Regions from separate parts of the Homo sapiens genome. Here regions 1 and 2 are each linked to region 3. The links come from fine-mapping of genetic effects on plasma protein levels. A gene starts in region 3. Each other region holds a variant in brackets. All regions are shown on one strand. Distances are from middle to middle. Region 1 has its middle 18 kb from the start of APOH. Region 2 has its middle 18 kb from the start of PRKCA. Region 3 holds the start of APOH (apolipoprotein H).

The links. A credible set is the group of variants that fine-mapping cannot tell apart. PIP is the chance, under the fine-mapping model, that this variant and not a neighbour inherited with it causes the effect. The UK Biobank Pharma Proteomics Project read protein levels with antibody pairs (Olink). The fine-mapping took linkage between variants from a reference panel, not from the people measured, so its PIPs are less certain.
Region 1: its variant is the best candidate, but not a certain one, in a credible set for the plasma level of the APOH protein (UK Biobank, PIP 0.89).
Region 2: its variant is the best candidate, but not a certain one, in a credible set for the plasma level of the APOH protein (UK Biobank, PIP 0.83).

Annotation. Positions count from the first base shown.
Region 1 is chr17:66,246,411-66,249,259 of GRCh38, reverse strand. No RefSeq gene overlaps it. Among named protein-coding and RNA genes, the nearest start is that of APOH, 18 kb to the right of the region's middle. The variant G/A (reference allele first, on the strand shown) is at 1,498.
Region 2 is chr17:66,283,112-66,285,960 of GRCh38, reverse strand. No RefSeq gene overlaps it. Among named protein-coding and RNA genes, the nearest start is that of PRKCA, 18 kb to the left of the region's middle. The variant G/A (reference allele first, on the strand shown) is at 1,576.
Region 3 is chr17:66,228,409-66,230,908 of GRCh38, reverse strand. APOH (apolipoprotein H) reads left to right here and starts at 1,494. Exons shown (of 8, transcript NM_000042.3): 1 at 1,494-1,593. The coding sequence starts at 1,530.

The DNA.
Region 1 (2,849 bases), 18 kb before region 3:
TATCTGCTATATGTAGGTCATCTGATTAAATTAGTTCATTCATATTACAATATGAATGAGGCTTAACTTTTCCAGGACATATTTATATTTGTATTTTCTTTTTTTCTTTCTTTCTTTTTTTTTTTTTGAGACGGAGTCTTACTCTTTTGCCCAGGCTGGAGTGCAGTGGCATGATCTCTGCTCACTGCAACCTCTGCCTCCCGGTTTCAAGCTGATTCTCCTGCCTCAGCCTCCCTCAGCCTCCCGAGTAGCTGGGATTACCGGCGTCCACCACCACACCCAGCTAATTTTTGTATTTTTAGTAGAGATGGGGTTTTACCATCTTGGCCAGGCTGGTCTTGGACTCTTGATCTTGTGATCCACCTGCCTCAGCCTCCCAAAGTGCTGGGATTACAGGCATGAGCCACTACACCTGGCCTTTTTTTTTTTTAAGGTAGGGTCTTGCTCTGTCACCCAGGCTGGAGTATGGTGGCACTATCACAGCTCACTGCATCCTTGAACTGGGATCATGCCATTCTCTCACCTCAGCCTCCTGGTTAGTTGGGACCACAGGTGCATGCCATCATGCCTGGCTAATTTTTTTCTTTTGCAGTTTTTTCGTGGAGATGGAGGTTTGCCATGTTGCCCAGGCTGTATCTGTATTTTCCAAAGAGAATTTTATTAGCGGAAGTGAACTTCCAGTTGGCAAGTGTTGCCAGGGAAATGGCTCTGAGCAACGACATTACTTCCCTCATTGCTTCCCTTATCAGTCAGTTAATAGCTATTTCTGGAGCACTGACTGTGTCAGGCACTGGTCTACGTGCTGGGGATGCAGCCAGTAAAGACAGAGTCAGCCCTTGAGAGGCATGTGTTGTGTGGGACATTTATTGGCCATAATAAGGATGGCACCATGTCTGAGAGGCTGAAAAAGAGACCCAGAGCCAGTGAGCGAGACATAGGGTTTATTGAGGACTTCTACATGGAGTGGTCCAGGGGCAGTGAGCTGGACAGGAGAACCGTGACCTGCCACCACACCCAGCTAATTTTTGTATTTTTTATAGAGACGGGGTTTTGCCATGTTGCCCAGGCTAGTCTTGAACTCCTGAGCTCAAGTGGTCCATCAGCCTCAGCCTCAGCCTCCTAAAGTGCTAGGATGACAGGTGTGAGCCATCGCGCCTGGCCTGCCCTGCTCATTTTTCTACATAGCACTTACCTTAACCCTTCATCTATTTGTTTATTATTTATTTATTTTTGTCTTTCTTCTCCCACTATGATGTCAGCAACTTCAGGGTAGAGATTTTGCCTGCTGTGTTCACAACTGTGCCAGCACATGGCTGACCTTGAAGAACAGTCCTGGAGTAAATGAATACTTGGATGAAAAGTAGGAAAAGGGAGAAAGCTGCTGATACAGGTCAGCAGAGCCAGATCACACAGGGCCTAGTAGACCAGGATGGGGAGTTTGCATTTTGTTCTAATTTTTTTTTTTTTTTTTTTTTGGAGACAGAGTCTCACTCTGTC[G/A]CCCAGGCTGGGGTGCAATGGCGTGATCTCGGCTCACTGCAAGCTCCGCCTCCCAGGTTCACACCATTCTCTTGCCTCAGCCTCCTGAGCAGCTGGGACTACAGGCGCTTACCACCACGCACAGCTAATTTTTTGTATTTTTTTTAGTAGAGACGGGGTTTCACCATGTTAGCCAGGATGGTCTCGATCTCCTGACTTCGTGATCTGCCTGCCTTGGCCTCCCAAAGTGTTGGGATTACAGGCGTGGGCCACCATGCCTGGCCTTTGTTCTAATTTTAATGTGAAGCCATGGAGCATCTAAGCAGAAGAGTGACCCAATATGTTATTTTAGGATGATCACTCAGTTGAACTTCCAGGGCCTAGAACTTGATGTTATGATTGACAGGATGCACATCACTTTTTGAAGAAACCCACTTCATTGCTGAAAGTCTTTAATTATTAAACATTAGGGCAGGCGCCGTGGCTCACACCTGTAATCCCAGCACTTTGGAAGGCCGAGACAGGCAGATTACTTGAGCTCAGAAGTTCAAGATCAGCCTGGGCAACATGGTGAAATCCGTCTTTACAAAAAAATACAAAAATTAGCCAGGCGTGGTGGCAAGCACCTATAGTCCCAACTACTTGGGGTGGGGGCTGAGGCAGGAGGATCGTTTGAACCCCAGAAGTCGAGGCTGCAGTGAACTGAGATTGTGCCACTGTACTCCAGCCTGGAGGACAAAGTGAGACCCTGTCTCGAAAAAAAAAAGAAAAAGAAAAAAATCCATTTTTTCACACATTGAATCTTTCTTTCTTCTCTAAAACTGGTACCCATTAACCCAAAGTCTGTGCTCAGAATCCACTGAAAACAAGTTTAAAACTCCTTCCACATAATGGTTTTTGAAATATTTGGAGACTTTCTTAGTCTTCTCCAGGGTAGGCTTTCATGATACTTTGACTTATTATCCTGTTACATGACTTTCAGAGTTTTCATTGTCCTTCAGAGAGGTCTGGCTTTTCAGTATGCTCCTGAAGAACTGCCAAACTTTGGTCTGACCAACACAGTGCAAAGCAGTAATTGTGTTCAAGACTGGAGTTTTCTGTGTCTGAACACAGCCTAATTCAATTACACTTCAGCTGTGTCACTAGCAGGTCAGGCTAAACTTGTGGTTGATGGAAACATCTGGAACTTCTTCAAGCTCATGCTGCTTCCTCCTCCACTTCACCTGCATGCTGAGATTTGCAGTGATCTTGTGAAATGTATCCTGTGGTTTCCGGCTGAAGTGGTAAGGTTTTTGAGATCAACTCTCTCTGCGTTCTCTCAGTTGCGTAACATCTGAAAATTTGTAGTTTTGTTCTTATACTTTTTTTTTTTT
Region 2 (2,849 bases), 55 kb before region 3:
AAAATACAAACACAAATATTAGAGAAATGTTTCTCTCCCTAGTGCTCCCACTTCTCCAATCCCACAGAGATAACTTCTATTTTTTTTTTTTTTTTTTTGAGATGGAGTTTCGCTCTTGTCATCCAGGCTGGAGTGCAATGGCACTATCTTGGCTCACTGCAACCTCTGCCTCTTGGGTTCAAGCAATCCTCTTGCCTCAGCCTCCCAAGTAGCAGGGATTACAGGTGCCCACCACCATGCCCAGCTAATTTTTGTATTTTTAGTAGAGACAGGGTTTCACCATGTTGGTCAGGCTGGTCTCGAACTCCTGACCTCAGGTGATCCACCTGCCTCAGCCTCCTAAAGTGCTGGGATTACAGGCGTGAACCACCATGCCCAGCCCCCATAGAGATAACTTCTGTATAATACTTGCCTTTGAAAGAAAAATATTCATATTGCACATGGTATCTTGATCCAGGTTTTTAAAAAATGAAAGACAAAATGCTTCAGATAGCCTCTTACTGCTCATCACAGATCTTTTTTAAAAATGACCAACAAATTGGCTCCTCCAGACATTTGGCATTAACTAGTTAACTGGCACCCATAGCTTAGGGCATCTTTGTCTAACCACATCAAAGAACGTCTTTAAATGTTTACGCAGCCTTGGAAGTGATCAGTACATGTCTGTGGATCAAATAGGTTGTATTTGGATCCCTAAAATGCTATTTCATGGAAAAATAATAAGTAAGCATGCAGCCATCACTTTTGGCCTCCTCTGCCACATAAAATATGCTTTAACATAGATTTCCACCAAAAAAAGCCTCAAGGAACAATCAGAAATTTAACCTGTGCTAAAGAGAGAGACAGAGAGAGAGAGAGAGAGAGAGAGAGAGAGAGAGAGACTGGTTATTGGAAAGGCTCTGAGTGGATTCATTCCAGATGTTTTTATTACTGCTGATTATCCAAGTGAGGACCAAAACCTTCTTTTACTTTTTATTTATTTACTTATTTTTGAGACAGGGTCTCATTCTGTCACCCAGGCTGGGATGTAGTGGTGTGATCACAGCTCACTATAGTCTCAACCACTGAGGGCTCAGATGATCTCCCATCTCAGCCTCCCAAGTATCTGGGACTACAGGTGTGCACCACCACATCCATCTTATTTTTGTATTATTTTGTAGAGATGAGGTCTCACTATGTTGCCCAGGCTGGTCTCGAACTCCTGGGCTTGGGTGATCTTCCTGCCTCTGCCTCCCAAAATTACAGGTGTGAGCCACCATGCCCTGCCCTCTTTTACTTTTTTTTTTTCTTCTTCTTCTTTTGAGACAGAGTTTCACTCTTGTTGCCCAGGCTGGAGTGCAATGGCGCGATCTTGGCTCACGGCAAACTCTGCCTCCCCGGTTCAAGTGATTCTCCTGCCTCAGCCTCCTGAGTAGCTGGGATTACAGGCATATATCACCACACCCAGCTAATTTTGTATTTTTGGTAGAGATGGGGTTTCTCCATGTTGGTCAGTCTGGTCTTGAACTCCTGACCCCAGGTGATCCGCCTGCCTCGGCCTCCCAAAGTGCTGGGATTACAGGTGTGAGCCGCCGC[G/A]CCCGGCCCCCTTTTACTTTTCATGAAGAAGATTGGAGCAATAACAGTAGAAAATGTGCAGCTATATTGGAAACTCTATCAATGTCAAGTTGTTATGAAAGTTGCTACTCTTTTGTCCATTGTCTGAGAGATTCTGTAAACAGAAGCCTGTGGTCTCTGCCTCCTGCTCACCATCACTTTGCTCACAGGCTGAGGCTCCCGGAGGGGCTGGCTGAGCAGCTGGAGTCTTGTGTGTCTCCTTAGGCTAACAAAAAACCTAGACAGACAGCAAAACACTTGCATTCTTCAAGCTTTTCCTTGGGAGGATTTCTACTAGCAGATCAGTGGCACCTGATAGGAAGATTCATAAGCAAACAGGAATTCCATGTGTGTTATGTGAATTTGTACTCAAGGATGCAATTGAGGGCCGGGTGTGGTGACTCTCTCCTGTAATCCCAGCACTTTGGGAGGCTGAGGCGGGTGGATCACTTGAGGTCAGGATTTTGAGACCAGCGGGGCCAACATGGTGAAACCCCATCTCTATTAAAAATACAAAAATTAGCCACGTGTGGTGGCAGGCACCTGCAGTCCCAGCTGCTTGGGAGACTGAAGCAGGAGAATTGCTTGAACCTGGAAGGTGGGAGGTTGCAGTGAGCCGAGATTGCATCACTTCATTCTAGCCTGGGCAACAAAGACTCCAAAGAGGAACGTAATTGACATTCTGTAGCTCCTTGATAGTGCTTCATGGACCCTCAAAAAATAAAGGAGAGAATAGTGTTTTAGAGTCAAACAGATCTAGATGTAGTTCCCAGCGCCAATCCATTTGACTGTGTGACCTGGATCATTTAACCTCCCTGAACCTCCATTTCCTCTTCTGTAAAGTGGGAATAATAATGAACATCCCTCCAAAAGCTGCTGGAAGAACTAAGTGAGATGGAGTCCATGAGGCCCAAAGCCCAGTACCTGGCACATAGTAGATGCTCAATAAATCTAAGTTCCCTATCTAAGACATATATATTGGGGATGGAAGAGAGAAAGGATCACAAGGGGAGAAAAAAAGGAAGACAAGGAAGGAGAAAGCCAGGGCCAGCAGGAGTAAGAATCAGTAAAACGTATTTTCTCATGTGACTCTCCTTGTGTTTGTTTGCACTCCTCTTTCTTGAGTGTGTGCTTTTCTCTTTGCAATAAATCTCTGTAATTTCATTATTTTCTGACCCACCTTTGAATGCCTTCTTGTGATGATGTCAAGAGCCTGGACACCAGCTGGGGTCGAGGTCCCATCGGTGTTTGGGGAC
Region 3 (2,500 bases):
ACGACTTGGCTCCTCCTGACTTCATTAGTTTTCTTTCTTCTTCATTCATCAAGGAGATTCTCCACAATAAAGCGGAACCTGGGAATTATCCAGAGAACAAGAATCTCCTTCCCCTTAGAAGGACAAATAGGGAAGGACCACTGTTATTTCACATTAGTGGCAGCACACTCTTCTTATCATGGAACACAATGTTCATTAGGATCGTAATTTAAGAATCATCTGCCTGACAGATGGAGATTTCTCAAGCTGATGTGTCTCAGGGAATTTTAGACCTCTGGATATAAACCAAGATCACCCAAATGAGAGCAAGCGGAGGTTATTTATTCAGAGCTTGCTATAGGAAGGGAGGCAGCCATTAACAGTTGTGTTTGGCAGAGACTCAAAGTCAAAGTCAGACAGAGGAGTGGGAAAGCTTTATAATAGAAAAAAGGAAAGGCTTCAGGTGTGCTCCAACGGATTGTTGGTATGGGGAGGATGGAAGGAAACTAACTAGAAGTGAGGTGTCCATGTGATTGGTTAGAGAAATATGTTTGGATTTCTCTGGTTGGCCTTAAGTTGGGCCAACTGCTATAGAGGTTGTAGGTTTGGCTTTCTAGACCTGTTGCTACAGATGTGTGGGTCAGAGTTCTGTTTTCACATATGGCCTGGCTATTGTCCATTTATATATCCTTTTTTTTTTTTTTAGAGCAAATGATGTAGAAGAGAACTAGGGAATCAAAGACAACCCCCCTTCCGAACCCTCTCAAGCAACAACATCAGCACTGGCCCATTATCTTATCCTACTCAAGTTTTTTTTTCTTCTTCGAGTCCCAAGTTGTTAATTTCAAATCAATTTTCAAATTCCTGAAACAGATCTAGAAACCTGTCTAGACAGATCCAAGACATATTAAGAATGGATGAGGAGGACTTTGTATTGATCTGACGTAAGAGAAGATAGAGAATTCAAGGATAGCTCTAAGGTCCTAACTGGAGCTATAGGAGCTTGCAAGAGAGGATGTTGAGCTCAGTTTGTAGGGAATTAAAGTTGTAAGTGCCTCCTGGAAGACATTCTTTGTAATTATACATCTGAAAACTGGAACATCATTTTAGAGAGGTGGAGACTGAGAACAGAGAGTAGGTGTTTGTCCAAAGTTTATATGCCAAGGCTGTGAGTGAAACAGGAGCTTCGATCTTTTGGTGTTCCATCTACAACATACACAAAACAAAAGATGGAGAATGAGAAGTCCAGGCAACCCCGGAAACAACAAGTTTCTGTCAAAAGCAATAATGAACTGTTTTGTGCCATTAACAAAAACGTTATGAAGACAGAAACCATCTCCCAAAGATTTCATAACAGAGCCACATAAGTGGAAAGTAAATGATTAAAGAATGTGGGTCTCAGAGTTCCATTCAAATCATGATACTTTATCTTCTATTTACAAAGATAAAAGTACACCAGAAAATGGTTAATGTTTAAGCGCTTTCATATTTGGCTCTGTCTTTTTAGCAGACGAAAACCACTTTGGTAGTGCCAGTGTGACTCATCCACAATGATTTCTCCAGTGCTCATCTTGTTCTCGAGTTTTCTCTGCCATGTTGCTATTGCAGGACGGAGTAAGTACTTTTTGCTTTTGAAAAAATAATTAATATATCCAACCCCTTCGTATATGTCAGGGATCAATAATGATAAGTAGGCCGGGCGTGCTTGCTCACATCTGTAATCTCAGCACTTTGGGAGGCCAAGGCAGGTGGATCACCTGAGGTCAGGAGTTCGAGACCAGTCTGGCCAACATGGTGAAACCCCGTCTTTATGAAAAATACAAAAATTAGCTGGGCATCATGGCCGAGGTGGGCGAATCAGTTGAGGTCAGGAATTCGAGCCCAGCCTGGGCAACATAGTGAAACCCTGTCTTTACTAAAAACACAAAAATTAGCCGGGCGTGATGGCAGGCGCCTGTAATCCCAGCCACTCGGGAGGCTGAGGCAGGAGAATTGCTTGAACCTGGGAGGCAGAGGTTGCAGTGAGCCGAGGTCCCCCCATTGCACTCCAGTCTGGGCAACAAGAGCAAAACTCAGTCAACAATAATAATAATAAGAAGAAGAATAATTAAATTCTTTTTTTTTTTTTTTGAGACAGAGTCTCGCTCTGTCGCCAGGCTGAAGTGCAGTGGTGCGATCTCGGCTCACTGCAAGCTCCGCCTCCTGGGTTCACTCCATTCTCCTGCTTCAGCTTCCCGAGTAGCTGGGACCACAGGCGCCCGCCACCACACCCGGCTAATTTTTTGTATTTTTAGTAGAGACGGGGTTTCACCGTGTTAGCCAGGTTGGTCTCTATCTCCTGACCTCGTGATCCACCCGCCTCAGCCTCCCAAAGTGCTGGGATTACAGGTGTGAGCAACTGCGCCCAGCTGATAACTAAATTCTCTTTAGAGTGGATGCTGGAGGGACTGGATTGATACTGATTCTTTAATATTGCCATGTGTAAAGCTCCTCTGTAAGATACGTAGCCAATTTAAGCCTC